4 linked regions of the Homo sapiens genome follow. The protein of the gene in region 2 purifies or fractionates together with the protein of the main gene of each other region. This does not show direct contact. Each region holds a gene or a part of one and is shown on either strand. Other genes may lie near its edges.

Region 1 (7,376 bases), on a different chromosome or scaffold from region 2:
GGGACAGGAGGAGAGGAGAGGGGAGGGGAGGGGAGGGAAAGTGTAAAAGCACCAGGTAACCCACCAAGGAAAACCCATCAGATTAACAGCAAATTTCTCAGCAGAAACCCTACAAGCTGGTAGAAATTTGGGCCCTATATTCAGCCTCCTAAAAATATACAACTATCAGCCAGGAATTTTGTATCCACTGAAAGTAAGCATCATATATGAAGGAAAGATACAGTCTTCTTCAGACAAACAAATGCTGAGAGAATTCACCACTACCAAACCACCACTACAAGAACTGCTAAAAGGAGCTCTAAATCTTGAAACAAATTCTGGAAACACATAAAAATAGAACCTCTTTAAAGCATAAATCACACAGGACCTATCAAACAAAAACAAAATTTAAAAATAACAAAAAAGCAAGATACACAGGCAACAAATAGCACAATGAATGCAATGGTACCTCACATCTCAATACTAACATTGAATGTAAATGGCCTAAATGCTCCACTTAAGAAATACAGAACTGCAGAAAGGATAAAAACTCACCAACAAATTATCTGCTGCCTTCAGGACAATCACCCAACACATAAGGACTCACATAACCTTAAAGAAAAGGGATGGAAAAAGGCATTTCATGCAAATGGACACCAAAAGTGAGCAGAGGTAACTATTCTTATATCAGACAAAACAAACTTTAAAGCAACAACACTTAAAAGAGACAAAGAGGGACATTATATCATCATACAAGTCCTTGTCCAACAGGAAAATATCACAATCCTAAACATATATGCAAATAATACCAGAGCTCCCAAATTTATAAAACAATTACTAACAGACCTAAGAAGTGAGACAGACAGCAACACAATAATAGTGGCGAACTTCAATATTCTACTGACAGCAGAGATAGACAGCAACACAATAATAGTGGTGGAGTTCAATACTCTACTGACAGCACTAGACAGGTCATCAAGAGACAAAGTCAACAAAGAAACAATAGATCTAACCTATACCGTGGAATAAATGGAATTAACAGATATATACAGAACATTTCAACCAACAACCGCAGAATACACATCCTATTCAACAGTGCATGGAACTTTCTCCAAGATAGGCCGTATGATAGGGCTCAAAATGAGCCTCCATAAATTTAAGAAAACTGAAATTATATCAAGCACTCTGTCAGACCAAAATGGAATAAAACTGGAAATCAACTCAAAAAGGAACCTTCAAAACCATGCAGATACATGGAAATTATATAACCTGCTCCTGAATGATCACTGGGTCAAATACAAAATCAAGATGGAAATTAAAAAAATTCTTAGAACTGAATGACAATAACAACACAACCTATCAAAAGGACACAGCAAAGGTGGTGCTAAGAGGAAAGTTCATAGCCTTAAACACCTATATGGAAATGACTAAAAGAGCACAAACTGACATTCTAAGGTTGTGCCTCAAGGAACTAGAGAAACAAGAACAAACCAAACCCAAACCCAGCAGAAGAAAGGAAATAACCAAGATCAGAGCAGAACTAAATGAAATTGAAACAACAACAAAAAAAAACACACGAAAGATAAATAAAACAAAAAGCTGGTTCTTTGAAAAGACAAATAAAATTGATAGACCATTAGCAAGATTAACCAAGAAAAGAAGTCAGAAAATCCAAATAACCTCATTAAGAAACAAAATGGGAGACATTAGGACTGACACCACTGAAATACAAAAGGTCATTTCAGGCTACTATGAACATCATTACACACATAAAGTAGAAAACCTAGAAGAGATGGATAAATTCCTGGAAAAATACACCCCCCCAGCTTAAATCAGGAAGAATTATATATCCTGAACAGACCAATAACAGGCAGAGATACTGAAATGGTAATTAAAACATTACCAAAAAAAAAAAAAAATCCAGGATCAGATGGATTCACAACTGATTTCTAGAAGACATTCAAAGAACAATTGGTACCAATCCTTTTGGCACTATTCCACAAGATAGAGAAAGAGGGAAGCCACCCTAATTCATTCTATGAAGCCAGCATCACCCTAATACCTAAACCAGGAAAGGACATAACCAAAACAGAAAACTACAGACTAATATCCCTGATGAACATAGATACTAAAATCCTAACACAATACTAGCTAACTGAATTCAACAACATATCAAAAAGATAATCCACCATGATCAAGTGGGTTTCATACCAGGGACGCAGGGATGGTTTAACATACACAAGGCAATAAATGTGATATACCCCATAAACAGAATTTAAAACAAAAATCACATGATCATCTCATTAGATGAAGAAAAAGCATTCAACAAAGTCTAGCATCCCTTTATGATTAAAACTCTCAACAAAACCAGCATACAACAGACATACCTCAATGTAATGAAAGCCATCTATGACAAACCCATAGCCAACATAATACTGAATGGGGAAAAGTTAAAAGCATTCCCTCTGAGGACTGGAATAAGACAAGCATGCCCACTCTCACCACTCCTCTTCAACATAGTACTGGAAGTCCTCGCCAGAGCAACCAGGCAAGAGAAAGAAATAAAGGGCATCCAAACTGGTAAAGAGGAAGTCAAACTGTCACTATTTGCTGACCATATGATCATTTACCTTGGAAACCCTAAAGACTCCCTCAGAAAGCTCCTAGAACTGATAAAATAACTCAACGAAGTTTCCAGATACAAGACTAAAGTACAGAATTCAGTAGCTCTCCTATACACCAACAGTGACAAAGTGGAGAATCAAATCAACAACTCAACCCCTTTTACAACAGTTGCAAAAAATAATTAAATACTTAGGAATATATCTAACCATGGACGCAAAAAACCTCTACAAGGAAAACTACACAACAGTGCTGAAAGAAATCATAGACGATACAAACAAATGGAAACATCCCATGCTCATGGATGGGTAGAAACAATATTGTGAAAATGACCATACTGCCAAAAGCAATCTAGAAATTCAACACAATTCACATCAAAATACCACCATCATTCTTCACAGAATTACAAAAAAAAAATCTAAAATTCATGTGGAACCAAAAAAGAGCCCACATAACCAAAACAAGACTATGCAAAAAGAACAAATCTGGAGGCATCACACTACCTGATTTCAAACTATACTATAAGGCCATAGTCACCAAAACAGCATGGTACTGGTATATAAATAGGCACATAGACCAATGGAACGAAATCAAAAACCCAGAAATAACCCCAAATACTTGCAGCCAACTGATCTTTGACAAAGCAAACAAAAACATAAAGTGGGAAAAGGACACCATTTTCAACAAATGGTGCTGGGATAATTAGCAAGCCACATGTAGGAGAACGAAACTGGAATGTCATCTCTCACATTACACACAAATCAATTCAAGATAGATTAAGGACTTAAATCTAAGACCCGAATCTATAAAAGTTCTAGAAGATAACATTGAAAAAACCCTTCGAGACATTGGCTTAGGCAATGATTTCATGACCAAGAACCCAAAAGCAAATGCAATAAAAACAAAGATAAATAGCCGGGACCTAATTAAACTAAAGAGCTTTTGCATGGCAAAAGAATCAGTCAGCAGAGTAAACAGACAAACCACAGGGTGGGAGAAAATCTGCACAATATATACATCTGACAAAGGACTAATATCCAGAATCCACAATGAACTCAAAAAAATCAGGTAGAAAAATCAAACAATCCCACCAAAACGTGGGCTAAGGACATAAATAGACAATTTTCAAAAAAGATATACAAATGGCCAACAAACATATGAAAAAATGCTCAACATCTCTAATGATTGGGGAAATGCAAATCAAAACCACAATTTAATACCTCCTCACTCTTGCAAAAATGGCCATAATCCAAAAATAAATAAAAACAGTAGATGTTGGTGTGGATGTCGTGAACAGGCAACACTTCTACACTGCTGGTGGAAATGTAAACTAGTACAGCTGCTATGGAAAACAGTGTGGATATTCCTTAAAGAACTAAAAAGAATCATATATATATATACACACACACACACACACACACACACACAAACACACGTATATATATATACACACACGTATGTGTATGCATATATACATATATACACACACATGTACATGTGTGTATATACGTACATATATACACGTATGTGTGTATACATACATATATACACGTATGTGTGTATGTACATAAAAACACACGTTTGTGTGTATATATACATATACACACACATGTGTGTATATGTATATATACACATATATATTGATGAGATTCGAGACTATTATTCTTAGTGAAGTAACTCATGAATGGAAAACCAAACACTGTATGTTCCCACTGATATGTGGGAGCTAAGCTATGAGGATGCAAAGGCATAAGAATGACACAATGGACTTTGGGGACTTGGAGGGAAGGCAGTGAAGGGGGGCGAGGGATAAAATACTACAAATAGTGTGCAGTGTATACTGCTCAGGTGATGGATGCACCAAAATCTCACAAAACACCACTAAATAACATATCCATGCAACCAAATACCACCTGTATCCCAATAACCTATGGAATTTTTTTTAATTAATAGATTAAAAAATACTGAGGCTCAGAGGGAAAATATACAACTATCTTTATTTGGCTAGCAAAAAGCAAGGCAGAACCCAAAGGTCATTTAGAAGCTATGAGTCTGGCACACTTTTCAAGGCAGTATTGAACTCTAAAATAGAGAATGGAGGTCCTCCCAGTCTTCACTGAAATTTTTTCTTCAGTGATATTTCAGGATGGGCAAAAAAGCATTTTATTAATGTTAACCTGAGTGCATTTTAAATAATGGTTTGATAGGGTTACTGCCCAAGCTTTAGGAGACAAGGGCCAGGTCAAAGGTGGTTACAATAGGAACAGAGAGGAATGATGGTGGGAGATACAAACCTTACAAAGTGAAGACAAACAGAATGACCAGAGTTAGAGATTCTGGGAGTTTCTGCCTGGGAAACCAGAAGAATCTAAGTGCCATGAGAAGCGTGAAAGGAGCGCAGCTTGGTAAAAGAAAAGAAAATGCACTGTTTTTCAATTATTTTCAGTATAGAGAAGTTGAAGGGGACAGAGGAACATTTCAGTGGTCATGCCCAACAAGCATATACAATATGTAAAATATAAGTTGAAGTTGGAGATGTGTCAAATGCATAAAAACACCAGAATAACAGTTCTTGCTTATGGCTGCACATCAGAATCATATGGAGCACTGAAAAAAAAATCCTACGCTCTAGATTAATTAAATAAAAACCTCTGGGGTTGGAATAACCACTGGCCGAAGTAAATCATGGCAGAAGTTAAATCATGGGTAAAGAAGAATGGCTGGATGCAGTGGCTCCTGCCGGTAATCCCAGCACTTTGGGAGGTCGAGGCAGGTGGATCACTTGAGGTCAGGACTTCAAGACCAGTCTGGCCAACATGGCGAAAAACTGTATCTACTAAAAGTACAAAAATTAGCCAGGCGTGGTGGTGCATGCCTGTAGTCCCAGCTACTCGGGAGGCTGAGGCAGGAGAATCGCTTGAACCCTGGAGGCAGAGGTTGCAGTGAGCCGAGATTGTGCCACTGTACTGCAGCCTGGGTGACAGATTCTCAAACAAAGAAGAAGAAGAAGAAGCAGGAGGAGGAGGAGGAGGAGGGTGAGGAGGAGGAGAAGGGAAGAAGGAAGAAAGAAGGAAGAAGGAAGGAAGAAGAAAGAGGAAGAAGAACCAAACATTGAGGGTCACTCATACTTGAAGCTGGAAGAGGAGGAATACATGACAGCAACGAAGAAGGGGAAGCCAGAGAAGAAAAAAAAAAAAAAGAACCTTGATAGAGTAGAATAGGACAAAGCTTTAAGAAGTAAGGGATGAGTAATGTGTCAGCTATTGATACTGGGACGTGGAGGAGGCCAGGACTGAGGATGTGTCATTTTTATTTTATTTCATGGGCATGTGATAAAAGTAAATTATCTTTTTGTGTTTAAGTATACTAAAATCTGTGCCTGGAATAGACATAATGTAGAGACCACAGGTGGGTACTACAGTTTTTAATGGGCTACTTTCAACATTTCCAAAGTGGCTGAAGAATTTTAACTGTTAGTGATAGCAACATCTGGCCCAGCAATGTCAGGAATAGTATATCAACAGAGGAGAATGAACCTGCGCAAAATTAAAGAAGTCTCATCTATTCTCCTTTGTCTTTTATTCTAGCGCACAGAGCAAGAGGTAAAGCCCCAGCTGGGGAAGAAAAAGAAAAAAAAATCCTTACTAAAAGCTGTTGTCATTGTACAGACAAAATTAATAACCAACTGAACTGGGCTACTTCCACTTGGCCAAAAGTAAATGCTAACCATATGAGTCAATTGTTTTGCCTTCAAAACATGCGTACGTGCACAAAGACAACAAACAAAGCACAAACCTCAAAAGACAAATACAACTTAGCAGACTGTAAATTAAAAATATAAATATTTGGTTAGTGTTTGGCAACTGCTGAAAAATAATTGTTAAACGAATGGGGAAAAGAGACTGTGTAGCCAAGAATACAAAGATACCATTATAAAAGAAATAGGATGAAATTAAGAACAGCAAACTCTAGGCTGATTTTGAGGGAAAACGTTCTTCTACTGACTGCTAAAATACTCTTCCCAAGTGGGAGCAAAAGCACAGAAACTACCCTGGATTATGTTCAAGGGTAAAATGAGATAATGTATGTGAGAGTGCTGTGGAAACTCCAGATTGTGCTACGTATGTGAGGAGTTGCTATGATTGTTGTTACTATCCCACCCAGAGCTGGGGAACAAAGGGTATTGGAGACAAGCCCCAAGCCAGACCGGCACTCAGCTAACACCTGAAACCTCTTGCTTTGCTCTGCTGTTATCCTAGCCAAAGTGAGTCACTGGTCATGTACCAATCACCACAAGATTCCATAAAATTACGGTATAATAAAAAAATTAGTTACTCAACCAGCAGTACTGGAAGGGGAGATAAGCTGACTTCCCAAGAAGGCTTTTGGCTGAGTTGTCCCAGTTGGGTATTGAATTCATGGTATGATTTATTTGCAGGATTGGGACTGGATAAAACTCAGTCAAGTACTCCAATTTCTGATTTCTATTAAGTTTGTTGGTCTTGCCCCACACTCCCTCCACCCTGTCCCATTTACCAAGCAATCTGGAATAGCTGTATCTGAAGATGTCAACAAGAACAGTCTCTTTTTTTTTCCCATGGCAATCAAGTACTCCATCCCATCCTCATAGGCCTGGGAATAAAATATCCTAAAGGAGCAGAGATACAAACCAGTGGGCATTTACAAGCCCAACCCAGGTCCACATCCTTAACAAAGGACTGGAAGAATACAATGAGAACTATAGAATGAGGCATGTCTGTACAAAATGAAATGCT
Region 2 (7,376 bases):
TACTGCATCTGCCAGCCCTGAGGACATCCGGCCAAGAGAAAGGTGCTGGCCTGTAGATTGAGTCCTGATTCAAGCTTTGCCTGAAGCCAGTGTTATCCACTCCTGGGTTTCAATGTGAAAGAGGCAATAAATTCCCTTCTTTGCTTCAGTCAATTTGAATTGGGTGTTCTGTCAATGGCAACTGAAATGTTCCAACCCCAATATTGAATTTTTTTTTTAAACAAGGTCTCGCCCTGTTGCCCAAGCTGGAGTGCAGTTGTGTCATCTTGGCTCACCACAGCCTCTGCCTCCTGGATTCAAGAGATTCTCCTGTCTCAGCCTCCCGAGTAGCTGGGATTACAGGTGCTCGCCGCCACACCTGGCTAATTTTTGTGTTTTTAGTAATGATGAGGTTTTGCCGTATTGGCCAGGCTGGTCTCGAACTCCTGACCTCAAGTGATCTGCCTGCCTTGGCTTCCCAGAGTACTGGGATTACAGGCATGAGTCACCGCACCCAGTCCAAAATGGAATATGACATCAGGTTGTAAAGTTTCTGCTTGCAGAGCAGCTGAGTGTAAATGAGCCATCATCTTCCTACAGGGAAACCTGTCTCTAACCAAATAAAAACTTCCTATGTGAGCACCTTCCTTACACAAAAGCAGGAAATGGGCCTGGCATAGACCAAATTTTCACCTCACTAGATGTGCAAAAGAGAAGTCTTAGGAAGGGGGAGATCAGAGAGAGGGTGGGTGGACTGTGACCTCACTGTCCAATGTTTAAGGGCATGCAGAGGGGACACAGAATTATAACTAAGGGGTAGTTGTCTAGAGAGGCAATCTAAGCTCAATCTAGGCTAAGAACGTGGTTTTTGAACACCAAGGAACCTTAAAATGCACCTGGTCCCCAGGCCAGGCACAGTATTTCATGCCTGTAGTCCCAGAACTTTGAGAAGCTGAGGTGGGAGGATCGCTTGAGCCCAGGAGTTTGAGACCAGCTTAGGCAACATAGTGAAACCCCATCTCCACAAAAAAAATAAAAAGTTAGCTGTGCATGGACACACACCTGTAGTCTCAGCTACTTGGGAGGCTGAGGTGGGAGGATCGCTTGAACCTGGGAGGTCAAGGCTGCAGTGAACAGTGATCCCACCACTGCACTCCAGCCCAGGTGACGGAGTGACTCTGTCTCAAAGAAAAAGTACCTGCACAAACCAAAGCCAATTACTCTGTCTTCAGAATAGACATCCAAAACCAAGGCTACAATCCAAGTCTTCAATAATGAAAGTTTTCTGGCCAGGTGTGGTGGCTCGTGCCTATAATCCCAGTATTTTGGGGACAGAGGTGGGAGGATCACTTGGGCCTAGGAGTTTGAAACCAGCCTGTGCAACAAAGTGAGATCCCTCCATCTCTACAAAAAATAAAGAATAAAAAAAATCCGGGCACGGTGGTACACACCTGTGGTCCCAGCTACTTGGGAAGCTGAGGCGGGAGGACAGCTTGAGCCTGGGAGGTCGAGACTACAGTGAGCCGTGATTGCCCCCCTGCACTCCAGTCTGGGTGACAGAATGAGACTATCTCCAAAAAAAAGAAAGTTTTCTAACATTTAGACTTGCAAAAGAAAAAGAAAATCAGAATTGACTGTGTCAGAAAACACGGTGTTTCCTGTTTCTAGAATGACAGGTGGAGACCACCGATTCCTGTGCTGGGCAGGAGGCTGGAGGTTATAGCCAATGATTCGTTTGAGGTCTAAGAACCAACAAAAACTCTCTGCTATAATGAAAGTGCATCCAGGGGCACAGGGAATACTAGTTTTTTCCTTAGTGTGAAAGCAGGCTGGGGCATCTGTTTCTTTGTTCCCTGTTTGTCCACTCTTCGACTCACATCATCGTTGACAGCAGTGAGGATGGATAAGATGTCTTCATGTCTGCAACAAAGAAGAAAACAAAATTTTTTTTTACGGAGTCTCACTCTGTCGCCCAGGCTGGAGTGCAGTGGTGTGATCTCAGCTCACTGCAGCCTCCACCTCCTGGATTCAAGTGATTCTCATGCCTCAGCCTCCCGAGTAGCTGGGATTACAGGTGCCTGCCACCACAATTGGCTAATTAGTAAAGATGGGGTTTCACCATATTGCTTGCCCAGGCTGGTCTCGAACCCCTGACCTCAGGTGATCCACCCACCTCGGCCTCCCAAAGTGCTGGGATTACAGGCATGAGCCACTGTGCCTGGCCCAGAGAAGAAACTTTTTTCAGTCAGGAGGTAGAAACCACACACCAGGTCTTAGAAAAGACACCAGGTACCATGTACCAGGTCTTAGATCAACAAATATGCAGCAGATGCCACAGATACCAACAATGCCCTCTCTATCTGTAGTCTTGGGAGAGATACAAAGATAGACATGACACAATTCCTGAAGTTAACCACTTAGAATGCAGATATGAAACATTTACCGAGGATGGCATATACACAATATTCATAACACAAGGCAGAATGTGGTCAACACCAAATGAAAGGTCAAGGTTCCACTGCAAGTTCAGAGGAGAATGCATTTCTGGTTGGGAGGGAGAGAGAAGGCTTCATGCAGATGGTAGCATTTGAGCCTGGGCTTGCAGGACATATAGCATTTAGCAGAACGTTCTCAGGGTAGGCAATACATATCACTGGAAGCAAGCACAGGTTCTGAAAACACATTCAATTTTAAATTGTGGCTCCATCATTCATTCATTGTGTGCTCTTAGGCTGGTTACTCACTGCTCCATGCCTCGGTTTTCCCAGCTCTAAAATAGGAACCATAACAGTCCCCATCTTAGGGGTTGCCGAGAGCATTAAAGGATGTATATTGGGTCAAGCACTTAGAACACTGGCTACACTGTTCTGCTGACCATCATTTTTAGTATTAGTATGACTACTCTCATCCCCTCATCCTTAACTATCACTATTTTTCAGGGAAGGGATGCAGGCCCTTACCTGCTCTCAATCCCTGCATCTTGCTTTGCACCTGCTCTCTATTCCCAAATCTTCCTGTGTCTGTTTCCTTCTTATCATTTAGTCTCACCTGAAATATTACCTCCACCAAGAAACTACCATTATCCTGTTTTGATTTGTTCATGGCAGGGATCACTTCCTGAAATTGCCTCTTTTTGTTAGAGACAGGATCTCGCTCTGTTGCCCAGGCTAGAATGCGGTAATGCGATTGTAGTTCACTACAGCCTCAAACTTCTGGGCTTAAGCAATCCTCCCACTTCAGACTCCCTAATAGCTAGGACTACAGGTGCATGCCACCACACCTGGCTAATTTTTTCTTATTAATTTAAATATTATTTAAATTAATATTAAATAATAATTGAATAATAAAATTATTAAATAAATATTAAACAATTAAAATATCATTAACTTAAATATTAAACACTGAAAACTATAAAACATTGATGAAAGAAAGTGAAGAGGACACAAATAAATGGAAAGATATCTCGTGTTCATGGGTTAGAAGAATAATCTTGTTAAAATGACCATACTACCCAAGGTGACCTACAGATTTAATGCAGTCCCTATCAAAATACCAGTGACAAGCCAAGTGCAGTGGCAAATGCCTGTAGTCCTAGCTACTCAGGAGTCTGAGGTGGGAGGATTGCTTGAGCCCAGGAGTTCAAGTCTAGCCTGGACAACATAACAAGACCCCATCTCTAAAACAAAACAAAACAAAAACAAACAAAAAAATTACATTCTTCACATAAATAGGGAAAAAAACCCTAAAATGTATATGGAACCACAAAAGACCCCAAATAGTGAAAGCAATGCTGAGCAAAAAGAACAAAACTGGAGGCATCCCACCACCTGACTTCAAAATATACTACAAATCTAGAGTTACCAAAACAGCATGGTAGTGGTATAAAAACAGACACATAGATCAATAGAACAGAATATAGATCCCAGAAATAAATTCACACACCTACAGCCAACTGATTTTTGACAAAGGTGCCCAGAACACACAATAGGTAAAAGAGAATCTCTTCAAAAAACGGTGCTGGGAAAATTGAATATCCATACACAGAAAAATGAGACTAACCACTTACCTCTCACCATAAACAAAAACCAACTCAAAATGTGTAAGACTTAAATGTAAAACCTGAAACTATGAAGCTGCTGCAAGAAAACAGGGCAAACATATCATGACATTGGGTTGGGCAAGGATTTTTAAAACAAGACTTCAAAAGCACAGACAACAAAAGCAAAAATAGACAAATGAGTTTACATCAAATTAAAACCCTTTTGCACGGCAAAAAAAAAAAAAAAAAAAAAAAAACCGAGGGAAGAGACAACCTACAAAATAGGAAAAAAATTTGCAAATTATACATCTCACAAGGAGTTAATATTTAGAATACATAAGGAACTTAAATAACTCAACAGCAAAAAAACAAATAACCCCATTTAAAAATGGGCAAAAGACTTTAACAGACATTTCTCAAAAGAAGACATACAAATGGTCCACAGGTATAAGAAAAAAATAAGTAGTTTAAGGCAAAATAAATGATTTCATTAGATTATGATAGAACATACTTACCAAATGCCCTCTATTTACATAAGTATCATATTAGCATTTATCATATCACTTCTGGGGGTATTAGTCTATCAGTCCCACCTAATATCATCCCTCCTATGCCTAGAAGGAATAATATTATCATTATTCATAGTAAATACCCTTATAGCTTTAAATATACACTTCACCCTAGCAAATGTAATACCCATTACTCTACCAGTATTTGCTGCCTGCAAAGCCAGGGTAGGCCTTGCTTTGCTACTTTCAATTTCCAACATATATGGCTTAGACTACATACATAACCTAAATTTACTTCAATGCTAAAAATAACTATTCCTACAATTATACTACTACCAATAACATGACTCTCTAAAAATTATACAATTTGAATCAATATGGCTACCCACAGCCTAATCACCAGCTTCATTGCCCTATTATTCTTTAACTAATTCAACGACAATCTATTCAACTTCTCATTAACTTTCTCCTCTGATCCGCTAACATCACCCCTTCTAATCTTAACAGCCTGACTACTACCTCTTATAACTATAGCAAGCCAGTACCACCTCTCCAGTGAATCACCCCTATGGAAAAAACCCTGTATTTCCATATTAATTTCCCTACAAATTTTTCTAATCATAGCATTTACAGCCACAGAACTAATTATATTTTATATTCTCTTTGAAGCTACACTTATCCCTATCTTAATTATTATCACCCGATGGGGTAACCAACCAGAACGCCTCAATGCAGGTACATATCTCTTATTTTACACACTAGTGGGATCCCTCCCCCTACTTATTACACTTATTTATGCCCAAAATATCCTAGGCTCACTGAGCATGATAATAATAACATTTAATATCAAGAACTACCAATCTCCTGATCCAACAATCTCATGTGATTGGCATGTATAATGGCCTTCATAGTAAAAATACCCCTATACTGACTTCACCTATGACTTCCCAAAGCCCATGTATAAGCACCTAAGGCTGGCTCAATAGTACTTGCAGCAGTGCTCCTAAAATTGGGCGGCTACACAAAATGCGACTTACCCTCATCCTCAGCCCTCTGACAGAACATATAGCCTATCCTTTCCTGATATTATCCTTATGAGGCATATTATGACAAGCTCCATCTGTCTACGACAAACTGATCTAAAGTCACTTATTGCACATTCCTCCGTAAGCCACATGGTACTTGTTACTGTGGCTATCCTCATTCAAACCCCCTGAAGTTTTACCAGTGCAATTATCCTCATAATTCCCCATGGACTTACTTCGTCCCTACTATTCTGCCTAGCAAATTCAAACTACAAGTGAATCCACAGCTGAATCATATTACTCTCTCGAGGACGTCAAACATTACTTCCACTAGTAACCTTTTGATGACTTACAGCAAATCTCACCAACCTTGCCCTACCCCCCACTATTAATCTAGTAGGAGAACTCCTTGTAACAACGGCTTCATTCTCCTGATCAAACACTACCATCATGCTTATAGGACTTAATATATTAATCACAGCCCTTTATTCCCTCTATATACTTGTCACAACACAACAAGGAACACTAACATACTATATTAACAGCATTAAACCTTCCTTTACACGAGAAAACATACTAATACTCATACACCTTTCACCAATTCTCTTACTATCTCTAAATCCTAAAATTATTATAGGACTTATACCTTGTAAATATAGTTTAATCAAAATGTTAGATTGTGGTCTAATAATAGAAGTCCGCAACTTCTTATTTACCGATAAAGTTTGCAAGAACTGCTAACTCATGCCTCCATGCCTAACAACATAGTTTTCTCAACTTTTAGAGGATGAGAGTTATCCATTGGTCTTAGGAACCAAAAATATTGGTGCAACTCCAAATAAAAGTAATAATCATGTATTTTTCCATTACTATAATAACCTTAATCTCCTTAACCTTACCAATTATTATTACCTTTATCAACCCTCACAAAAAGAACTCATATCCATACTATGTAAAAATAGCTGTCGCATGCACTTTCACCATTAGCCTCATTCCCACAACATTTATGTGTACAGACCAAGAAACCATCATCTCAAACTGATATTGAATAACAATCCAAACCCTAAAACTCTCATTAAGCTTCAAACTAGACTAATTCTCCATAATGTTTATTCTAGTAGCACTATTTATCACTTGATCTATTATAGAATTCTCAATATGATATATGAAGGCAGATCTGAACATTAATCAGTTTTTCAAATACCTACTTATTTTCCTCACCACAATATTAATTCTAGTTACTGCCAACAACATTTTCCAACTCTTTATCAGATGAGAGGGTGTAGGAATTATATCTTTTCTACTAATTGGCTGATGACATGGCCAAGCAGATGCTAACACAGCAGCCCTCCAAGCAATTCTATACAATCGCATTGGTGACATTGGCTTTATTTTAGCTATAGCATGATTCCTCTCATCATCCAATACATGAGAGCCTCAACAAATACTTATCCTTAACCCTACCCCCAACCTTCTTCCATTAATTGGTTTTCTCTTAGCAGCAGCAGGAAAATCAGCCCAACTTGGCCTCCACCCCTGACTTCCTTCCGCCTTGGAAGGCCCAACCCCAGTCTCAGCCCTACTTCACTCTAGCACTATAGTTGTGGTGGGAGTTTTCCTACTTACCCGCTTCCACCCCTCAACATCACTAATCATCACGGAAATGCAAATCAAAACCACAGTGACAGCTGGGCGCCGTGGCTCACGCCTGTAATACCAGCACTTTGGGAGGCTGAGGTGGGTGGATCACTTGAGATCAGGAGTTCCAGACCAGCCTGGCCAACGTGGTAAAACCCTGTCTCTACTAAAAATACAAAAATTAGC
Region 3 (7,376 bases), on a different chromosome or scaffold from region 2:
ACACCCTTCCCCTGACATCTGAAATCTCTCTCTTGGCTTTCTCCCACCACAGCACAAGCTCAATGAGGGCAAGGTCTCCCACCCCGGCTGACCTAGCATATAGTAAATACCCTATAAATACATATGGAATAAACAAATAAACAAACCCAAGTTTCAGCCAAGCTCTGCCCCCTGCCACTCAGACTAGTGACCGCCTTTCCCTGATCGTGCCTCTTCCTTTGCAAGATGTCATCCCACCTCAATGGCTGTCTTGAGAATTCAGGGCCGAGTAGTGCCCACCACAGACCCTGAGAGGCACATGGTCGCTCAGATGTCCTGTGTCCAACCCTAGGACCACCAAGGTGTCCTTCCTCACTGTCTCAGGCAGTCGAGAGTTTGTCTAGTTCTATCCCTCAATGGAGGGCAGCTGGCTGGGGGTCACAGGTATCACAGGTGAGGAAGAGTCAAGAATAGCAGGCCTCTTCTTCAGTCAGGCCTCCTTCCACCTCTGGCATTCGGCCTCTCTAAAAAGTAAGCCATTCCATTTTTCAGAGGGAAAAACAGGAGCCCAGATGGGGAGAGCCTCACTCCAGCCCCACCCTGCCTGGTGAGTCAGCAGTCAGACCTGCTCACCCATCTCCCATCAAGACCTAGCCAAGCCCTGGTTAACGACCTCCTCGCCTCGGGAAAGAGACCTGAAGCCTCCCTTGGCCTGTTCCTATCTTCCTTGAGGCAATGACTCCCTCACCTGCCCAGCCAGCCTGGTGGCTCTGGGAATTACTGGCTGATTCGAGGGGGAGTCACCACCAGGCAACCACCCCCTCAAACCCTGCCGCGCAAGCCCACATAGCTGCCTGAGGACCCAGGGCTGGCTCTCTAGGTCTGTTCCTTCTGACAGCACCCAGCACAGGTTATCTGCTGCCTCATCTACAAAGCAGGCATGATGCCCACTCCCTGGAGGGCCATTATGGGCACTAGGAGGGGGCAGGTGCGCGTGCTTTGTGGGCTGGAGAAAGCTCTGCAGATGGTAGAAGGAAGCACCCCCAGGCCAAGGTCTCCTAGAAGACAGGACATGCCAGCATCTCACCAGCTCCAACTTGGTCTTCTGACCTCCAGCTTCCACAATGGCCTCCTCCCCTGAACCCTTCCACTCCCCCCAGGGGCCTCCTCCCCTCCCTCAGCAGCCTCAGCCCTTTGCAGGGGCTCGGCACCACCCCTGGCCTCATGTTTCATTAGGGCACTTGTCACTAGCTGATGCCGTCTGCTACGCTGGCTTATTTTCGAGTTATCTGTCTTGCCCACTATAACGTAAACTCCTGGAGGCTGAGGACTTTCTTCACCTGGTCCAATTCTGAGCCCTCCGTGCCTGGAACAGTGCTTGGCATAAAGATGATCCTAATAAAAACTGGATGAAGGAATTAACAAACCCTTCCATGGCTCCCTCACCCACCACCCCCTAGAATAAAATCCAAACCAAGGCCCCCCACCTGCCTCATCTCCCCCTGCTCCCACCCACAAAGCCTCTGCTCCAGACAGACTCAGCCCTGACCACATCCGGCTGGGGACGTTGTACGCATGAGTCACTCTGCCAGAATCACCCTTCCCAGCTCCTCTTCCAGCTTCCTTGAGCTTGTTCTAGACATGGCACCTCCACAAGGAAACTGGGGCTGGCCAGGAGACTCCCTGCACACCCCAGAGCCCCTGCACTCACAATACCCGTGCCACCTGTCACATCAGCCTGGCTGCCACTTCCCTCATCTGTCTTCCCTGCAGCCTGAGAGCTCGAAGACCATATCTGATCCCTTCTGTGTTTCCCAAGCTTGCCCAACTAGAGAAAGGAGTACTACAGTTGAGGCGGTGCTCATTGCTGTGTCCTCCCCACATGACCAAGTGGAATTTCTCAAGAGCAAGGTCAAAGTAGTCTCACAGCAGAGTCCCCAACCCACCCAACCCATCGTGTCTACAGTCAGCCCTATGGCCAGTGCCCTTCCTTATTTCCTAGGTCACTTCTCCTCACCCTCTCCAACACGACCCCCAGGCCAGACCTCTGCCTAGTCCTTCTCCACAGACCTCACAGCCTCTTCAAGCGATTAATTTAATCTACGTAACACATGCCTAGCAGAGCACCTACTAGAAGCCCAGTGCATCCTAAACACTTTGAAAACCCTAACTTGCTTATTAACTGATTTTCCAGATGGAGTTAGAGTTCCCTGAAGAGGAATCACATCACGTCACCCTCCTGCTCAAAACCCACTGCCAGTGCCTGGCGCATGGAATAAAATCCAAACTGTCATCCCTGCCGTGGCCCGCGAGGCCAAGCTGCTCCGGCCCCAGCCTGGCTCCTCCACCTGCTCCCACCCTCTCTTGGTGGCACTTATCATTGTCTAAAATGATCTTCAGTTTCACTGGTCACCTGACTAGGTCAGCTCCACAAGAGCCGGGAACCTTGCTGCAGCACTCCTGCCCCAGGCACACTGCACAGCAACAGTGAGAACAAACCCTCGTACAGCGTGTGCCGGGTTGGGCACTGCTCCAGGCATACTGTGGGTAAATTTGTTTTCTCACAACAATCCAAACAGGGAGGTGATTATCAGCCTCACTTTACAGATGTGGAAACTGAGGTGGATGGCTGGGTGCGGTGGCTCACGCCTGTAATCCCAGAACTTTGGAAGGCTGAGGCGGGTGGATCACTTGAGGTCAGGAGTTCAAGACCAGCCTGGCCAACATAGTGAAACCCATCTCTACTAACTAAAAATACAAAAATTAGCTGGGCGTGGCAGTGGGTGCCAGTAATCCCAGCTACTTGGGAGGCTGAGGCAGGAGAACTGCTTGAACCCAGGAGGCGGAGGTTGCAGTAAGCCAAGATCACACCACTGCACTCCAGCCTGAGAGACAGAGGGAGATGGCGTCTCAAAAAAAAAAGAAAAGAAAAGAAACGAAACTGAGGCAGAGAGGTTCAATTACTGGCCTGAGGTCAGACAACTTATTTAAGTGCCAAGACCAGGATGTAAATCAGGCAGCCTGATCCAGGATCGTTGTTTTTTTACCCCGTGATATGCTGCCACTGCACAAGAAATGTCTGAATAAGTAAACCCCGGCAGATGTTTGCTGAATACACAAATGAAACTAGGGCAGGGGGTTGTCAGGAAAGGCTTCCTGAAGGAGGTGGCACAAGATCTGATCCTTCAACAATGGACAGGATGTAGACAGGCAAGATGGCGAGAGAAAGGACAAGAATTCCACTGTGGTGAACGAGAGCTGACACCCATCTGCCAAGTGTGTCACATCCCCCAGAAAAATGCTCATTTCTCCCACCCTCTGAACCCACCCGGGGCACTCTACATGCATTGCCAAAGCCTACAGACACCTACCACAGGTCACTTTGCCTTCAGAGGAAGGTCTGGCGGGCTCTGACTGCTGCTGGGGTGCGGCTGGGGCCCCTCTCCGCCGCCGTCTGGCACCACCACTGGGCCGGCCCCGACTCCGCCGCTGCCGCTTGGTTGGGGGGGAGCCTGAGGGGAAAAAAATGGGGCAAGTTGAGGACCAGGATGACAGCTAGAGTGCCCAGGTGTATGCCTGGAAAAGAACTCAAGGTGTTCTCGGTGCTGAGACCCTGAGTGAGCCAGTCTGCCTCCCTTCTTCAGTGGCCCTGTCTAAAAGATGAAGAGTACCATCTAGCATCATCTAGAAGGGCAAATGAGTACACCCCAGCACGCTGCAGCAGGCTCACTCCAGGTGTGATGTGACCCTAGAGAAATCCCTGCACACTTACACCAGGAGACACACACGACAACCGCCACCAGGGCATTGTTTATCATGATGAAAACCTGAGAACAACATATCTGGCAAGAAGAAACAGGAATATAGGGAGATGTCCAGGATAGACTGTTTAAGGAAATAAAGCAAGATACAAAATAAGTGTCTACAGTGTGCTGTACTTTGCATAAGGAGGGAAATTAAGATTATATATATCTGCAAAATGAAACACTAGAAGCACAGACTAGAAATGAATGAATTGGGGGTGAGGGGCACCCAGCAGTAGAAATGACATGTCTAAAAATACTTTTCATACTTTTTTTTTTGAGACCGAGTTTCGCTCTTGTTGCTCAGGCTGGAGTGCAATGGCACAATCTTGGCTCACTGCAATCTCCGCCTCCCGGGTTCAAGCAATTCTCCTGCCTCAGGTTCCCAAGTAACCGGGATTACAGGTGTCTGCCACGACAACCGGCTAATTTTTTGTATTTTAAGTAGAGATGGGTTTCACCATGTTGGCCAGGCTGGTCTCAAACTCCTGACCTCAAGTGATCCACCCGCCTCGGCCTCCCAAAGTGCTGGGATTATGGGCATTGAGTCACCAAGCCCAGCCCCACACTTTAGTTTTGACTTTTGACTCATATAACTGATTTACACACTTAAAAAGTTAAAATGAAATAAACCATAAAATTAACACAAATAGGCCGCACACGGTGTGGCTCCCGCCTACAATCCCAGCACTTTTGGAAGGCCGAGGTGGGTGGATCACTTGAGATCAGGAGTTCGAGACCAGTTTGACCAACATGGTTGAAACCCTGTCTCTACTAAAAATACAAAAATCAGCTGGGCGTGGTGGCGCCTACCTGTAATCCCAGCTACTGGGGAAGCTGAGGCAGGAGAATTGCTTGAACCCAGGAGCTGGAGGCTGCAGTGAGCCGAGATTGTGCCACTGCACTCCAGCCAGGGTGACAGTGTGAGACCCTGTCTCAAAAAAAAAAAAAAAAAAAAATTAAACACAAACAGAAGAAAATGAACCTGGTCGGATGTTGTGGTTCATGTCTGTAATCCCAGCCTACGCCCTAGGAGTTCAAGACCAACCTGGAACCCGGGCAACATGGAAAAACCCGTCTCTATTAAAATAAAATGTAAAAAAATTAGCCGGGTGTGGTAGCACGTGCCTGTAGTCCCAGCTACTTGGGAGGCTGAGGTGGGAGGGCTGCTTGAGCCCAGGAGATCTAGGCTGCAGTAAGCAGTGTTTGCGCCACTGGACTCCAGCCTGGGAAACAGAGCTAGACCCTCAAAGGGAGAAGGGAGAAGAAAAGGAAGGAAGGAAGGGAGAGAGGGACGGAGGGAGGGAGGGAGGGAGGGAAGGAGGAAGAGAGGGAGGGAGGAAGGGAGGGAGGGGATTGTATACATAATTGGTAACAGGAATACTCAGATGAAACAATTATTCAAGTAACTTGAAGAACATTCTGACTGTAAAATCTCAATGGGATATGCTCAGAGAACAAGAAACACAAATAAAATCTATGTTTCATTCACTAGATACAGTCAGCAGTTGTACTGACTTTGTTATTTTGATGCTATTTAATTACTGTTGTAAAATAAATCAAACAAACCCACATCTTAATGTTATTAAGAGGAAAGACTTTTAGTATAAAAAAGTCTGGCTGGGGCTGGGTGCAGTGGCTAACACCTATAATCCCAGCATTCTGGGAGGCCGAGGCGGGCGGATCACCTCAAGTCGGGAGTTCGAGACCAGCCTGACCAACATGGAGAAACCCTGTCTCCACTAAAAATACAAAATTAGTCGGGCGTGGTGGCACATGCCTGTAATCCCAGCTACTCAGGAGGCTGAGGCAGGAGAATCGCTTGAACCCGGGAGGCGGAGGTTGCGGTGAGCCGAGATTGTGCCATTGCACTCCAGCCTGGGCAACAAGAGTGAAACTCTTTCTCAATAATAATAATAATAATAATAATAAATTAATTAATTAAAAAGTCTGGCTGGGAGCAGTGGCTCACACCTATAATCCCAGCACTTTGGGAGGCCAAGGCAAGCAGGTCACCTGAGGTCAGGAGTTCGAGACTAGCCTGGCCAACATGGTGAAACTGCGTCCCTACTAAAAATACAAAAATCAGCTGGATATGGTGGTGTGTACCTGTAGTCCCCGCTACTCAGGAGGCTGAGGCAGGAGGATCACTTAAACCTGGGAGGCAGAGGTTGCAGTGAGCTGAGATGGCGCCACTGTACTCCAGCCTGGGTGACAGAGTGAGACTCCATCTCAAAAAAAAGTATTTGTGATGTTTTTGTTTCTTTGTTTAGAGTGGGGATCTCGTTCTGTTGCCCGGGCTGGAGTCCAGTGGCATGCCACCACACCCGGCTCGTTTTTTTTTTTTCTCTGAGACAGGGTCTTGCTCTGTCACCCAGACTGGAGTGCAGTGGCATGATCTCAGCTCACTGCAACCTCCACCTTCCCAACTCAAGCAATCCTCCTACCTCAGCCTCCTGAATAGCTGGGACTACACGTGCACATCACCATGCCAGGCTAATTTTTATATTTTTTATAGAGACAGGGTTTTGCCATGTTGCCCAGGCTGGTCTCAAATGCCTGGGCTGAAGCAGTCCACCCGCCTTAGCCTCCCAAACTGCTGGGGCTACAGGTGTGAGCCACTGCACCCGGCTAGGTTTTTTATCTTTTTAGACACAGGGTCTTACTATATTGCCCAGGCTGATCTCGAACTCCTGGCCTCAGGCAATCCTCCTGCCTCAGCCACACAAAGCACTAAGATTACAGGCATGAGCCACCAAACATGGCTATAACATTAATCTTTAAAATACTAACAGAAACTTTTTGAAAAGTCAAGTCTCTAACACTGTTCACTGAAAGAACCTAGAACAATATACACACTCAACACCCAGGTTTTGGTCTCTAAATACCACAGCTTCCTTGAAAAACAGCTGATTCTAGGGTGCGGAAGGGAAAGTTCAAAGTCAGCCCAGGACATCTTGCAGTGCCACAAAGCAGGAAGCACACAAAGAATGATACAAACACATGAAGAAGACACAAGAGGCTAGCCAGTTGGAACTGCAGGAAGACTGACTGACTGTAACAAGTCAGTAAATAGTGTATGGGTCTATAGTGACACTCAAACTCAAAGGGGCATTGGGGGAATACCTCTTGAAAGAGAAAGAAAAAAGAAAAAGAATTAGAAAAATCACCATTTTGCAAACACCAATGTGATAACTGGTTCAGGCAAAGCTCATAGATGTGAAACCCACTGAGTAAATGGCTATTAGGGAACAGGATATGCCAAAGTATCACCCCATAGACTGTTTACTAACCATGAGAACTAAATGTCCCTTCACAATGGACAAACATGGCAGATATCCCCTTAACCAAGTGACCAAACTTTCCCACATCGGAAAAGCCAGGCCGTACATGCCTGGAGATGTACTCCAATATGAACTAGATGGCAGCAACCAAGGATTATTCCTGCTAAAGATGTATAAACTGAATCTAACCAAGCCTCAGACACAATTCCCATTTAACAAAAAATGTAAGGGAAAGAGGGACGAGTTACATAACTCCATCAGGAAAAAAACAGACAGATAAAGAAACAATCAGGACATTCTACAAAACAAC
Region 4 (7,376 bases), on a different chromosome or scaffold from region 2:
CAGCCTGGGCGACAGAGGGAGACTCTGTCTCAAAAAAAAAAAAAAAAAAGACAAGACATGTGAGAGCAAATACAGGACCTAGGAGAAATGTCACCTCGCCTGATTTTTTTTTTTTATGGGGCAAGATGTGGGCGCACAGCATCCTTTCATTTAAGCTGGCAAAGCCCAGAATGTGATGGGATCAGTGTCCTTTTACTTGATGATGGAAAGCAGGGGGAGTTAATGTCTTCTCACCTGTTTTAGAGGGCTGGGGAGGCCTTGGTTCTGGATCACTGAGGGCTCTGGGGGTCACATAGCGAATTGATGTCTCCTCCAGATACTTGTCTACAAGATCAGGGCACACTGTAGGAGGAGAAGTAATCATTCAGGAAAATATACACCCTTCCCTTCTGTCAGTCCAAACCCCCAGTGGGCCTCACAACTTACTCTAAGTACTCCCCAGGATCAATGTGTCCTCCCCTTTGGACGCCTATGCTGCTCCTTCCTGGCCTCCCACAACTCTTCCCTGATTCCAGCCCCTAATACTTCCTCACCAGCCCGTCTCCTCTTGAGGGTGACGTAGGGCAGCAGGTCGTGGCGAGTGATGATGCGCAGCAGCTGCAGCACCTGGCGAAAGTTACTTTCATCACAGCGGCCCTGGCGCTCCAGTGCCAATAAGAAGTCACGTCCATTTCGGATGAGTCCACGCTCGTGGTCATCAATGACATCAACAAAGAGGAAAGAAAGCACGCGCACATCTCTGTGTGTCAGATGAGTGCCCACGATGTCAAACATGCGGTGCAGGCTGTACAGCCCATGTTCCTGCTCACCATGCTCTTCTGGCCACACCTGGCTTGCCCGCCGCTTTAGGCCCGCCATGCTGGGGGCTCAGGTACGCAATGCTTTCCAGAATCCCTGCTCAGCAGCTGCAATCCCCACCGTACTGAAAGGGCAGGGAAAGAACCGATGAGACACTCAAGGGCAGGAACTAGTCTCATGCATTCCCATATTCCCAGTTGCTAACAATGCCTGGCACAGTATAGTGCTTTATACATGTTTATTAAATTTTTGAAGTGTTTGTTTAAAAATAAACACTGGCCAGGCACAGGGGCTCACACCTGTAATCCCAGCATTTTGGGAGGCCAAGGCAGGAGGATCACTTGAGCCCAGGCGTTTAAGACCAGCCTGGGCAACATAGGGAGACCCGTTTCTACAAAAAAAGAAAAAATTAGCTGGGCTTGGTGGTACACGCCTGTAGTCCCAGCTGCACAGGAGGCTGAGGTGGGAGGAAGGCTTGAGGCCAGGAGTTCAAGATCAGCCTGGTCAACATAGCAAGACCCCATCTCTACAAAAAAGAAAAAAATTAGCAAGGCATGGTGGCATGTGCCTGTAGTCCCTGCTACTCAGGAGGCTGAGGCAGGAGGATCACTTGAGCCCAGGAGTTCAAGGCTGCAGTGAGCCATAATCCTGCACTGTAGCCTGGGTGACAGAGTGAGTCCCCCATCTCGGAAAAAAAAGAACTAGTTTAAATTCTGACTGTATCACTGAAAGGCTGTGTAGCTGTGTGACCGTAAGCAAGTCACTTAACTCCAGATTCTCAGTGCTGTCATCTATAAACAGGGATGAATGAATATACACCTCAGAGTTGTTAAGAATCCAATGAGAAAATCACGGGTAACCCTTATATAAATGGTTGTGAAACATTTCAAAGATACAAGCATCCTTGGCCTTTGCAGCCCAGAATCATCCCTCCACATTTTTCCTACAATCCAACCACATCAAGAAATGATAACTGCTCAGAAAGTTTATCAATATTTACCAAAACTCATGGATTTAAAATAAACATTAAGTTTCTACAATAAGCATTCTTGTAATTCTATGCCATTTGTACTCCCTTGATCTTCACCCTATTTGGCAATATCAACTTTTTTTTTTTGAGATGGAGTCTCACTTTGTCACCCAGGCTGGAGTGCAGTGGTGCAATCTCGGCTCACTGCAACCTCCGCCTCCCAGGTTCAAGCAATTCTCGTGCCTCAGCCTCCCAAGTAGCTGGGATTACAGGCACGCACCACCACGTCTTGCTAATTTTTGTATTTTTAGTAGAGATGGGTTTTTACCATGATGGTCAGGCTGGTCTTGAACTCCTGACCTCAGGTGATCCACCCACCTCGGCCTCCCAAAGTGCTGGGATTACAGGCGTGAGCCACCGTACCTGGCCTTGGCAATACCACCTTCTAAGCTTTCCTCATGGATGTCATTTACCAATCCCCTATCAATGACCAATCACAGCTCCACATTCGTTATATAGTTTGGCTCTTGATTCACAAAGTTCCTCCATCGTTATGGGCTACAGGTAATACCAATGACGCAGCCATTAATCAATTCCCAAATTCAACAACTTTGACTCAAGTCACTCATACTTACTGCTCCACCAGACAGTACCATCCTATACTGTGCACTCTCTGGTCACACTCTCCAATCACACAATCAATCCTAAATTCCTGTTAATGCTACTTCTAGATATTTCTTAAATCTATCCTACCTTTCCACCTCCACTGCCATGGTTCAGATTACAATAATCTCTCACCTGGACTACTGTAACTTTAAAAGTTCTCTGCAACACCAATCTTAACCTACCTAAATCCATCCACTGCCACATCTAGTTCAGTTAGCTGTCTGAAGTCCACAACTGACCAAGTCACTTTCCTGCTTCAGACCCATTGATTGCCCCATCGTTATCTATAAGAACACTCCAAACTCTTTTTTTTTTTTTTTTTTTTGAGACAGAGTCACTCTGTCGCCCAGGCTGCAGTGCAGTGGCGCGATCTTGGCTCACTGCAACCTCCGCCTCCCAGGTTCAAGCGATTCTCCTGCCTCAGCTTCCCGAGTAGCTGGGACTACAGGCACCCACCACCACGCCCAGCTACTTTTTGTATTTTTAGTAGAGACGGGGTTTCACCATATTGGCCAGACTGGTCTCGAACTCCTGACCTTGTGATCCGCCTGCCTCGGCCTCCGAAAGTGCTGAGATTACAGGTGTGAGCCACCACGCCTGGCCGAACACTCCAAATTCTTTACACACACATCAAGCCTTCTAAGATCAGGCCTACCTTCCCAACCTCATTTCCCATCACATCCGCTTTTTATTCTCTAACATTATCAGTTTGTTTATAGTTCACATACATCATGCAATTTCTCTATACCTTCTTCAGGCTCTTCTCTTTGCCTGAATGCCCCTCTCCCTTCTCTATTCCACACCCCCATCATCACTCTTTTTCAGATGGCTAACTCCTACTCATTCTTTAAGAGTCAGCTCAGATGCCATCTTCAAAATGCATTTTCTACACCCCCATGCAGAGATAAGTAGTCCTCTTCTGTGCGCTTATGGAACACTATGCATATCTCCTTTACACCATTTATCACCATGTACTAAAATTATTTGTGTATTTATTATCCCATTAGATCCTACTCAACTCATGGAGAGATATATTCATCTTTATATCCCTAGTGCCTAGTAATGGACAGAGCCTCAAATATAGTGGGAGCAACCCACTGTTGAACTGAACTTAATCTCCAAGAGATCACCTCAAGCAATTCCAATTAAGAAACAAATTCACAAAAGTCCAAGAGAGGACCCCATTAAAAACAGATACAGGTAATTCAGTTACCATGCATATATTCTAACTAGCCATAGCCTCCTCTGCAATGTCCAGAACTACCCACACCATACCACACCACTCTACCCTACTCAACAATTAAACAGGTTGCTCTGTCCATTTTATACAAAAAGGAACTGAGGCTAGACTAGGAAACAATAAAATAATAAGCTTCTTTGGAAAAACAAAGCTGATAGAGAAAGCTGAAGAGTAAGTAGGAACTGGTCCTTTCTTCCTCAGATGAAAAACTAAAATGAAAGCACAGAGAAACTCATTCCCTTAAGAAAAGGGGAGGTACACTCTGGGATCACTTAACCCTATACCATGGGTTCTGATATGTAGACAGGAAATGTAATCCATATATAGTTTTGAGAGCCCAGATGCCCCACCCAAAGCATGGGAAATAGCTATTCAACTATAGACTGGTATTCCTTGCCTCTTCCTCTCGATTCACCTGTTGCTGTTACTGGGTACAAATGAAGGTGCTAAAGGAAAATAAGTTATTGCTCATAGCAGGCAACATGAGAAAACTGAGCCTCCTCAGAGCCCCTGCAACTTCTCTTTGTTCCCTATCCCACCTGTTCCCTTGGGCCAGCTGTTGATTGTGAGGCTCTCAGATAAAGCAGATTGGGTAGGTTTCACATTAAACCAACCAGAAGAGCTGGTTGCTCCACAGTTCCCTAATTTAAAGTGTGCTTAAACCCCAGGAAATGAAGAAACACTGTCCCCACATACCCTCGCAATGGAAAATAAGGCAAAATACAGGAAAGCACTGTGGTCCTAATTATGTATCAATGGATGTAATTCTATAAGCTTCAATCCTTTGAAGTTAACTCCCTACATTTGAGAGGAAACAAACACACTAGCCACCTTTAAGTCCTAGATCCCAGGCTAGATCATCAATGTACTAGGAATTATAATAGCTTTTAGGTCAGTGGTTCTGAACCAGGGGCAAATTTGACCCCTGGGGAATATGTGGCAATGTCTGGAGACATTTCTGATTATTATGCCTGGTGGGGAAGGGGACTGCCATCAGCATGTAATGAGTAGAAGCCAGGGATATTTAGAAACATCCTATAGGACAGGTGCAGTGGCTCCCGTCTGTAATCCCTGCACTTTGAGAGGCCAAGGTGGGAGGAACACTTGAGCCCAGGAGTTTGAGATCAGCTTGGACAACATGGTGAAACCCCATCTCTATGCAAAATATAAAAATTAGCCTGGCGTGGTGGCATGCACCTGTGATCCCAGCTACTTGGGAGGCTAAGGTAGAAGAATCGCTTGAGCCTGGGAGGTCGAAGCTGCAGTGGGATGTGATAGCGCCACTGCAGTCCAGCCCAGGTGACAGAGTGAAACCCTGTCTCAAAAGAAAAAAGAAACATCCTGTAATGCACAGAACAGTCTGCCACAACAAAGAATCATGCAGCACAAAATGTCAATAATGCCAAGGATGAGAAACCCTATTCTAGGTGGAGCATGGTAAAGGGTCAAAAGAATGCATGTCACTTTCCACACTAGATCTAGAAAAAGCCATCTGGTCCCTCCATCCAAACCCATCAAACAACATTCCAGAAGAAAAGAAAAGCCTGTCGGACATACATGTTCATTTAACTCCCAAGTCCAACTGCACTAAGGTGTTTCATGCCACTCCAACCTTGGGTCCTCTGTCACCTGCTGTTGCCATTCAGCTGAGGAACAGGTGGTAGTTCTACATCCACTTCTGCCCCATCCCAGGAGGTCTACTTTGACCTAGTTCAATCTGGAGTTCTATGGGGATATTAGAAATGTAATCCTCTGCAAGACAGACACAAAGGATCCTGCTCGTAAGCCTCAGGGTCATCTTTAAAGTCTTGGAACTGGATGAGCAGCAAATTCTCCTTGTGAGGTCACTAATCAGACTTATATTGCTTATTCAATGAAGCAAACATAGAAATATGTAAGTTCCTCAAGGCCATGTGCTTGGGAGAAATATGAGGATACTGTCATGCAGGTTAAGAGGCAGCCCTCTCCACTTAATGCAACCCAGATAAGGGTTCCAAGAATCTATCTAACTTTAACATTAAAAGAATGTGATGAGGCCTCGCATGGTGGCTCACACTTGTAATCTCAACACTTTGGGAGACCAAGGCAGGAGGACTGCTTGAGCCCAGGAGTTCGAGACCAGCCTGAGCAACATGACACAACTCCATCTCTACAAACAATAAACAAAAATTAGCTGGGCATAGTGGGACATACCTGTGGTCCCAGCTACTCTGATCGCACCACTGCACTCCAGCCTGGGGTACAGAGTGAGACCTTGCCTCAAAAAAAAAAAAAAAAAAAGTGATGAAAGTTCAGCTGATTAGTAAAATTAGAAAAGAAAACATGACCAATTTCCTCTAAAACCAAAATATACTCGTATTTCTGTGACAGTGAAGCAAGGGAGCTCAACTTAAAACATACAGAGATTCTAGATGACAGGTATCAGAATGGTGAGGAGAATGTAACCCTCTGAACAGAAAATTAGAACTAACTCAAGTCTTGGTATCTGAAACACTGCCAAATACCAAGAGACGAAACTCCAGCACACAGAAAGTCCTGATCCCACTGACTGGTCTGGCTGTATTTGAGATAGTAACACATGAATTCTCCCCTACAGTTTCCCAAGAATAATTGATTCTGAGGAATTGTTGTATTTCCTGGAGTTTTGCTTTTTTCTTTAGAGAAGTCCAAGTCAGCCAAGGGCCAACAGTCTATAGGTATCTTCAGGATTTCCTCCTGATTGGTCCTTCTCTACTATGTTTCTACTTCCAAGCAAAGTCTGGTCTCATCCCAACCAGGAATATCTGTAGTTTTTGAGGTACTTGGCTCTCTCAGAAGCCCTTAGGGGAAAGCGACATGAAAGAAATAAAAAAGAGTGCTGTCTTGAAATGAAAATGACAGTCATCTTTTCTGAACAGGGATGATATTTGTAATTTCATAGAATTAAGAGATATCTGACTCTCTCAGAAGTCCTCAGAGGAAAAGTCATGCAGAAGAACTACAAAAAAAAGTGGTATCTTGAAACTTAAATTAAAACTACATAGAAAATCTTAAAGATGGTTAAGAGTACATTCTTGCTGGTGGGATAGGAAATGTAATCAAATATCTGGAAGTCAGAATTACATAGTATGTTTTCAAAAGAAGGATGCCAGGAACCCCCCAACAGCTGAAAGAGAAAGTTAGAGGAAAAGTTTCCCACGGAAGGAAGGTGTCCCAGCAACCCTCCAAGGGCAACATTTAGTAGACAATGTACTAGAATACAGCCTTCCATATGTTAAAAAAAAAAAATGTTTCAGAGCTGACCAAGAAGACTAGACAATAACAAACCAAAGCTGGGGGATTGTCCCAAGACATCTAAATCTCCTTCTCTTTCACCTCCTATCTCCAATTAACTAAAGACAGTGATTACAACAGATCTCATGCACTCAGATGGATGAATGATAACTCATTTTCCCTGGCATTCTCCTCCTCATTAATGGACCCAACCTCAAAATAACTCCCATGCTATTTCCATTCCCTTCCATTGTTTGAAAACAATAAAAAAGTTCCAGACTTACCTCCGCAAGAAACTTAATTTCCCAGGTCTCTTCCTAGCACAAGTTTCACAGCCAGCAGCAAAACAAAAACAAATAAGGAGGGGAAAATAATTAATTTTCAAGTTTTACTTTGAAACCTCAGAGGCCCATAGAATTAGACAATCTCGTTGCAAAAGTACACAGACAA

Evidence for each region.
Region 1: the proteins of CASP10 (region 2) and EDA2R purify together in Homo sapiens (co-immunoprecipitation; one study listed by IntAct). This does not show direct contact.
Region 3: the proteins of CASP10 (region 2) and DEDD2 purify together in Homo sapiens (affinity purification with western blotting, with the first as the bait; one study listed by BioGRID). This does not show direct contact.
Region 4: the proteins of CASP10 (region 2) and DEDD purify together in Homo sapiens (affinity purification with western blotting, with the first as the bait; one study listed by BioGRID). This does not show direct contact.

The regions. Positions count from the first base shown.
Region 1 is NC_000023.11:66,626,823-66,634,198, forward strand, and holds part of EDA2R (tumor necrosis factor receptor superfamily member 27), read right to left. Parts: intron 1-7,376. UniProt on the Homo sapiens protein: Receptor for EDA isoform A2, but not for EDA isoform A1. Mediates the activation of the NF-kappa-B and JNK pathways. Activation seems to be mediated by binding to TRAF3 and TRAF6.
Region 2 is NC_000002.12:201,212,111-201,219,486, reverse strand, and holds part of CASP10 (caspase-10 isoform 1 preproprotein), read right to left. Parts: intron 1,900-7,376; coding exon 1,746-1,899; 3' UTR 1-1,745. UniProt on the Homo sapiens protein: Involved in the activation cascade of caspases responsible for apoptosis execution. Recruited to both Fas- and TNFR-1 receptors in a FADD dependent manner. May participate in the granzyme B apoptotic pathways.
Region 3 is NC_000019.10:42,206,350-42,213,725, forward strand, and holds part of DEDD2 (DNA-binding death effector domain-containing protein 2), read right to left. Parts: intron 3,492-7,376; coding exon 3,351-3,491; intron 1-3,350. UniProt on the Homo sapiens protein: May play a critical role in death receptor-induced apoptosis and may target CASP8 and CASP10 to the nucleus. May regulate degradation of intermediate filaments during apoptosis.
Region 4 is NC_000001.11:161,123,605-161,130,980, forward strand, and holds part of DEDD (death effector domain-containing protein), read right to left. Parts: intron 7,244-7,376; 5' UTR 7,211-7,243; intron 1,842-7,210; exon of another isoform or gene 923-1,841; 5' UTR 859-922; coding exon 534-858; intron 343-533; coding exon 235-342; intron 1-234. UniProt on the Homo sapiens protein: A scaffold protein that directs CASP3 to certain substrates and facilitates their ordered degradation during apoptosis. May also play a role in mediating CASP3 cleavage of KRT18. Regulates degradation of intermediate filaments during apoptosis.